2 linked regions of the Homo sapiens genome follow. The protein of the gene in region 1 interacts with the protein of each later gene in a pairwise test. Each region holds a gene or a part of one and is shown on either strand. Other genes may lie near its edges. The genes, in order: DHFR and GKAP1.

Region 1 (3,823 bases):
TCCCAGCACTTTGGGAGGCTGAGGTGGGCAGATCACCTGAGGTCAGGAGTTTGAGACCAGCCTGGCCAACATGGAGAAACCCCATTTCTACTAAAAAACACAAAAATTAGCTGGGCATGGTGGCACATGCCTGTTATCCCAGCTACTTGGGAGGCTGAGGCAGGAGAATTGCTTGAGCCAGGGAGGTGGAGGCTGCAGTGAGCCGCGATCACACCACTGCCCTCTGGCCTGGGTGACAGTGGGTCATTCTTGTCATACCCAACTAAATCAGAGTTGAGGGGCCAGGGGAAAAAAGCACTCAGGGTATAAAACATTGCTCCAAGAATGTAATTCTCTGTAAGCCTGACTGCTGGAACTGCTTGTTGTAACCTGAAACCAGTTTTATCTATAGCTTCTGAGATAACTTGCTGCAACTCTAGAACTGATTTTGCCCACCACTCACTGCTCGCCAGTCGGAGCTTGCTAGCTCCCCCAAACCTTAGTAGTGCCAATGAACTTTCTCAAAGAGCAGTAACATTTCTCCTTTTAAATAAAACCTCTAACCTTCCCTTTGTTCTTCAGACATATGGAAGGTCACTTGTCTGCATGTATGCCCTAAACTGCAATTTTTTCTTCCCAAACACAATGTTAAATTTAGAGAATTCATCGCAAAATTTTTATTTTGCCTTTGATAATACTAAAAGGTTGGGACAGCAGAGCAAGGTGAAGATAGAAAAAAAGGAATCCAGAATCAAGTCAGGGGAGATGAGAGAGTTGATTTAGGTGGCAGTGGATTTTTGTCTCAAGATGGAGGGAAACAAGAACAAAGTAATATGTTAAGGTGAAAATGAGATCATGAGTCTGTTCACTGTGATTTCATTAATATTAATATTAATGTGTATGTTCTATAAGATATAAAGTAGCAAGTTTATGGGGGTGGGGGTAGGAACTGATATCTATACCCTTCTGTGTGCCAGAAACTTTACATACAAAATTTCAGTGAGTCTTCAAAATCACCCAAAAAAGTTGTCATTATTCATCTCATTTAATAGGTAAGGAAAGAGGTTCAACAAGGCTTACTTGTAACCTGCCTAAAGTCACAAAGTTATTAGGTGCCATAGTAGACATCAGAAACCAGGTCAGTGTTTGCTACTCCAAGTGTGTGAGTGGTAGGGGGAGAGAGAACTGCACCTTCAAGAAGTTTTAATCACTGTGGAGATTCTGATAGTGAGATCGTAAAAAATTATAACATGAAATTAAGTTAACTTTCGTGGATGGGAGACTATTTAAATCTTACATAATGGAGGCAATTTTGGATTTTCTAAAGATGGTGTCCAGGCTACTATAGCATTACAGTAAAACTTGTTTATTTAATTTTTGGTTCCAACGAGGTTTTTTTTTTTTTTTTGAGACGGAGTCTTGCTCTGTTGCCCAGGCTGGAGTGCAGTGGTATAGTCTTGGCTCACTGCAACTTCTGCCTCCTGGTTCAAGAGCTTCTCCTGCCTCAGCTTCCCGAGTAGCTGGGATTACAGGTGCTTGCCACCACGCCTGGCTAATTTTTGTATTTTCAGTAGAGACGGGGTTTTGCTATGTTGGCCAGGCTGGTCTCGAACACCTGACCTCGTGATCTGCCCACCTCGGCCTCCCAAAGTGCTGGGATTACAGATGTGAGCCACTGTGCCCGGCTGGTTCCAAAGACTTTTAAAAGCCACTTTATTGATATAAATCACACACCATAACATTTACCCTTTTAAAGTGTATAGTTCAGTGACGTTTAGTAGATTCAGAGTCGAGCAAGCATCACTCCTATCTACTTTTAGAACAGTTCCATCACACCAAAAAAGAAAACATTCTGTACTCATCAGTGGCCATTCCCACCCTTCTCACCTCAAGTTCTTTTAAAGCCACAACTTGACTGTCTAGACAACTTTGGAAAAGCATTTTCCCTCAATACCTTACTTAAGAAATATTTACCCTAAATTACTATAGTGTTTGGTAGAAAATTTTGTGATCACTTTGAGGATTCAGTTTCTTCTTACATTGGGGGAGAGGGGTGAAAAATGAAGTATCTTTAGAGTTGGCATAAGCAAGTGATTTCCATGTATAAATCTCTGCCCTCTTATTCAGGACCCTGCAGTGCCTGGCACTCAGCAGCTGTTCACTATATGTGTGGGACTGACCAACAAGTAAGGAAGTGGAAGGAAGAACAACAACAAAAAAGAGCTCTAACATTTTTTACTAACTGGTATCACTATTTCCCTGGCATGCTTGATAACAAAGACTTTAAATTTTCTCAGCCTTAAAAAAAAAAGCACAAGACACCAACATATGTTATATATAAATACAGAAGAAGCAACCAAACCCAATTACATGCATCACAGGAAGGTCGTAAAAAAAAATTACACTCATCATATTCGAGGAGAAATGCTGGCTCAAGTGAACATCTCCCCCACTGAGATTTCTTTCTGTTTGAGCTTAAGCTAGCCATAAACAAACTTGAGTAGTATTCAAAAATATCATTAAAGAGTTTCTTGGAATGGCGATATAGTCTGTGAATTTGAAATCTACCAAGGAAAGAGATAATCAGAGCATCCTAGCAACCAGAAGAAAGAACAGCATGAAGATGGAAGCAGGCAGCAAGATGCACATCAACAAATCTGCCCCGTCGCCCAGAGGCAATCAATGCAAATATTCTATACACTTTCTTCTCGGTTTTTACCTATGCCATTCTAGGAAGAACTTGGGAGAAAATCTATGTAAGCCTGAATCCCCTTAGCCTATATAGCTGTGTAGTTCTTTCCTTCCCATAGTGTTAAACTTGACTAGGATATAGTCCTTGGTTATTCAGATACTGTATCTAGGTGTTGCTTTGAAGGCATTTTGTAGATGTGATTACAATTCAGTTTTTTTTTTAAATTTTTTTGAGACAGGATCTCACTCTGTTGCCTAGGCTGGAGCGCAGTGGTACTATCTTGGCTCACTGCAACCTCTGCCTCCTGGAAACTACAGGTACATGCCACCACGCCTGGCTAATTTGTTTGTAGAGACGGGGTTTCATTATGTTGCACGGTTGGTCTCAAACTCCTGAGCTCAAGTGATCCACCTGCCTTGGCCTTCCAAAGTGCTGGGATTGCAGGGGTTAGCCACTGTGCCCGGTCAGACTTTAATCTGAGTGGGCTGAATCAATCAGTTTAAAGGCTTTAAGAGTAGAGTTGAGGCTTTCCTGAAGAAATTTCACCTGTACCACTTCAGCCCCTGCTGGAGAATTCCAGCTTGTCCTTTCTGATGGCCCGTTTTACAGATTTTTGGACTCACGTACCCAGCCCCCATAATTGTGTAAGCCAATTCCTCGCAATAAAACTCTTTAATATACCTGTATCTATCTACTACTGGTTCTGCTTCTTTGGTTGAATCTTCACCAATACACATGGGAAAAGAATACTATGACTACTGTTCCCAAGAAAGTAGTGCCCTAGGATACTGCATTCTTTTTGGTGATTATATTATTAGACTAAGAATGATTAACATGCCAGATCCCAGACCTTCCCCTTAGATCCTGATATGGTTTGGCTGTGTCTCCGCCAAAATCTCACCTTGAATTGTAATAATCCCCACATGTCAAGGGTGATACCAGGTGGAGATAAATGAATTATGGGGGGTGGTACCCCCCATGATGTTCTCGTGATAGTTAAGTTCTCATGAGATCTGATGGTTTTATAAGGGGCCTTTCCCCCTTTGCTCGGCACTTCTCCTTCCTGCCACCATGTGAAGAAGGATGCGTTTGCTTCCCCTTCCACCATGATTTTAAATTTCCTGTGGCCTCCCCAGCCATGAGGAACTGTGA
Region 2 (3,823 bases), on another chromosome or scaffold:
TCTAGCAATTTGTCTTAACATGATACTGTAATAAAATGCTATGACTTAATGACGACTAGATGGCATCTTCAGACATCAGTTCTTACTGTGATTTTTCTTCATTGTATACCAAAAACTTGAAAGATTTCCAAATATTTTTCTGGTTACTTAAGGTGGAAGATTGAATACATACTTCTCATTTTTCTTCCCTCCTGAAAACATACAAACGATAATGTGTGGTTAGCTTTCAGAATGGATCTTAATGATCCTTACTTCTTAGTATTCACCTTTACATAGCCCTTTCCTGCAATGAATAGGGTGGACCTGTGTGATAATGTGAATATAGTAAGAAATATATATGTAACCAGTGGGATATTGTGGAAATGACAGCAGTTCATTCAAATATGATCACTGTGAATCAAGGCATAGAATAGAACTATAAAGAAAAGCAAAGGAGTAAGTTATACAAAAATCAGGATACTTGTTATCTCTGGCTGGTGCAGTGGGGGAATGCAATTGGAGAGAAGCATAGGAGTCAGTTAACGTTTTGTTAACCTTTGTGCTGGCTACTTGGAGTGTTCATCTTAATTTTTTCAAATTGAATATTCAGTTTTTACCTGAAACATTTCAAAATACAAATTTCTGAGTTGCCATTCTGTTAAGACAATCTTTGTCTTTTTTAATTAGAAGAGCACTTAGTCTTCTGGTTGTTACAGGGCTTCTTAATTTGGACTTTCAGAATAAGGTTCAACAAATCTAGGTCCAGGTGGAGACTCAGCCGCTAACTTCCAGAAAGAACTAAGGGAAGTCACATAACCAACTTAAACTCCACTTACCTTAGCTGTATAACTAAAGGATTTGGATTAGGAACTACTAGGGGACTTTTAAGATCCCTTCTAAGTCTAAACGGTTGTGGAAAAGCTGACAGCACATGGAATGAAGCTACACTGACCTATGCTTGCATGGAAACTAGTGAACTAAACATAATGTGGAAGGCATTTTGAAAAGTTTCCTTTGGTTGAGAGAATTTAAGCTCTTTATTTTTGCTGTCAGTTCTAAATCACAGTCTCTAGAATCAAACCTATGGTAGTATTTTATATATGATAAGAGTGGTATTCCGTCTTTACTCCTTTTTTTCTTGTATTGGAAGTTGGGAGTTAACATGTAGTTGGACTAAAGGTCTTTTTTTTGTGTATCATGAAAAAATGATATTCTTTTCCACTGTAAACCATATTGATTTAGGATGTTCTCTATAACTATGTATATATTTCAGAATGATTGAGAGAGGAAGACTGTGAATTTTTAAAGTATACATGGAAAAATGAGTACATTATATCTGTGAAATCTCATATTTTTCTATTGTAAAATGTTATATCGTTTACTTAAATATAAAAGTATGTTATTGCTAATAGTGCTGTGGGTATTAATCCAAATTTACTAAATCCAGTGTCAGAAGAAATTTATTTTATCTACATATGGTTGTTTTAGAATCTACAACAGATTTTACTCTGTTTGTTTACCCATCTGCCTACTCTTCTGCCTCCCCACAGAAATTATTCTTGACAGAAGTATTTTAAAAGAAAAATCTTTACGATGGCCTCAGCAGTACTTAGTTCTGTTCCCACCACCGCTTCTCGTTTTGCCCTGTTACAAGTGGATAGTGGCAGTGGCTCTGATTCTGAACCTGGAAAAGGTAAAGGTCGAAATACTGGAAAGTCTCAAACTTTAGGAAGCAAGTCAACTACAAATGAGAAAAAAAGAGAGAAAAGAAGAAAAAAGAAGGAACAGCAACAGAGTGAAGCAAATGAGGTAACACAATTATCTGTGTTGTCTGCTTTCCCAGTAGATGGTAATCATCCTGAGAACAGATACTATCTTGTTCCCCTGTGTATCCATAGTACCTGTTCCACAGGTACTCTGAAAATATTACTTCAATGAATGGATGTGAATTTGTGTATATTTAAAATCAAATGTAATGATCTTTTTTTTTTTTTGAGACAGGGTCTCACTCTGTCACCTAGGCTGGAGTGCAGTGGGATGATCACAGTTCACTGTAGCCTCAACCTCCTAGGCTCAAGGTAGCCTCACACCTTAGCCTCCCAAGTAGCTGGGACCACAGGCACACACTGCCATGCCTGGCTAATTTTTGCGTTTTTTGTAGAGATGGAGTTTTGCCATGTTGCATAGGCTGGTCTTGAACACCTGGGCTCAAGCAATCTGCTTGCCTCAGCCTCCCAAAGGGTTGGGATTACAGGCGTGAGCCACCACACCCTGCCTGAACATTTTTAAAGTACGTTTTTTCTGACTGGAAGTTTGTGTGTTCATTGCATAAAGTTTAAAATAGGAAAGTCTTAAAAGGAAACAGGTCATTTATAGATATAACCAGAGATATAACCAATTAATATTTTGGTATGTGTTTTCTGTACACATATATAAATTTATATGAATATATACATGTATGTATATATCCTTCTAATACTTAAATGAAAATGGGGTTATATAATAGACTGTTTTATAACTGGCTTTTAAAAAAAATTAACCATGAGCAGTTTTCCATATTGGTAAATACAGATCTCTGTTATTTTAAATGAATCCACAGTTTACAATATTTAATTACATGGTTTTTTTTTTATTTTTTATTTTTTTTATTGATCATTCTTGGGTGTTTCTCGCAGAGGGGGATTTGGCAGGGTCATAGGACAATAGTGGAGGGAAGGTCGGCAGATAAACAAGTGAACAAAGGTTTCTGGTTTTCCTAGGCAGAGGACCCTGCGGCCTTCCGCAGTGTTTGTGTCCCTGGGTACTTGAGATTAGGGAGTGGTGATGATTCTTAACGAGCATGCTGCCTTCAAGCATCTGTTTAACAAAGCACATCTTGCACCGCCCTTAATCCATTTAACCCTGAGTGGACACAGCACGTTTCAGAGAGCACAGGGTTGGGGGTAAGGTCACCGATCAACAGGATCCCAAGGCAGAAGAATTTATCTTAGTACAGAACAAAATGAAAAGTCTCCCATGTCTACTTCTTTCTACACAGACACGGCAACCATCCGATTTCTCAATCTTTTCCCCACCTTTCCCCCCCTTCTATTCCACAAAACTGCCATTGTCATCCCGGCCCGTTCTCAATGAGCTGTTGGGTACACCTCCCAGATGGGGTGGTGGCCGGGCAGAGGGGCTCCTCACTTCCCAGTAGGGGCGGCCGGGCAGAGGCGCCCCTCACCTCCCGGACGGGGCGGCTGGCCGGGCGGGGGGCTGACCCCCCACCTCCCTCCCGGACGGGGCGGCTGACCAGGCAGAGGGGCTCCTCACTTCCCAGTAGGGGCGGCCGGGCAGAGGCGCCCCTCACCTCCCGGACGGGGTGGCTGGCCCGGCGGGGGGCTGACCCCACCTCCCTCCCGTACGGGGCGGCTGGCCGGGCGGGGGGCTGGACCCCCCCACCTCCCTCCCGGACGGGGCGGCTGGCCAGGCGGGGGGCTGACCCCCCCCACCTCCCTCCTGGATGGGGCGGCTGGCCGGGCCGGGGGCTGACCCCCCCACCTCCCTCCCGGACGGGGCGTCTGGCTGGGCGGGGGGCTGACCCCCCCACCTCCCTCCCGGACGGGGCGGCTGGCCGAGCAGAGGGGCTCCTCACTTCCCAGTAGGGGTGGCCGGGCAGAGGCGCCCCTCACCTCCCGGACGGGGTGGCTGGCCGGGCGGGGGGCTGACCCCCCCCACCTCCCTCCCGGACGGGGCGGCTGGCCGGGCGGGGGGCTGACCCCCCCACCTCCCTCCCGGATGGGGCGGCTGGCCGGGCGGGGTGCTGACCCCCCCACCTCCCTCCCAGATGGGGCGGCTGGCCGGG

Evidence for each region.
Region 2: the proteins of DHFR (region 1) and GKAP1 interact in a two-hybrid assay, tested with the Homo sapiens proteins (one large-scale study listed by BioGRID).

What each region holds. Positions count from the first base shown.
Region 1 is NC_000005.10:80,644,735-80,648,557, forward strand, and holds part of DHFR (dihydrofolate reductase), read right to left. Parts: intron 1-3,823.
Region 2 is NC_000009.12:83,804,267-83,808,089, reverse strand, and holds part of GKAP1 (G kinase-anchoring protein 1), read left to right. Parts: intron 1-1,529; 5' UTR 1,530-1,572; coding exon 1,573-1,788; intron 1,789-3,823. UniProt on the Homo sapiens protein: Regulates insulin-dependent IRS1 tyrosine phosphorylation in adipocytes by modulating the availability of IRS1 to IR tyrosine kinase. Its association with IRS1 is required for insulin-induced translocation of SLC2A4 to the cell membrane.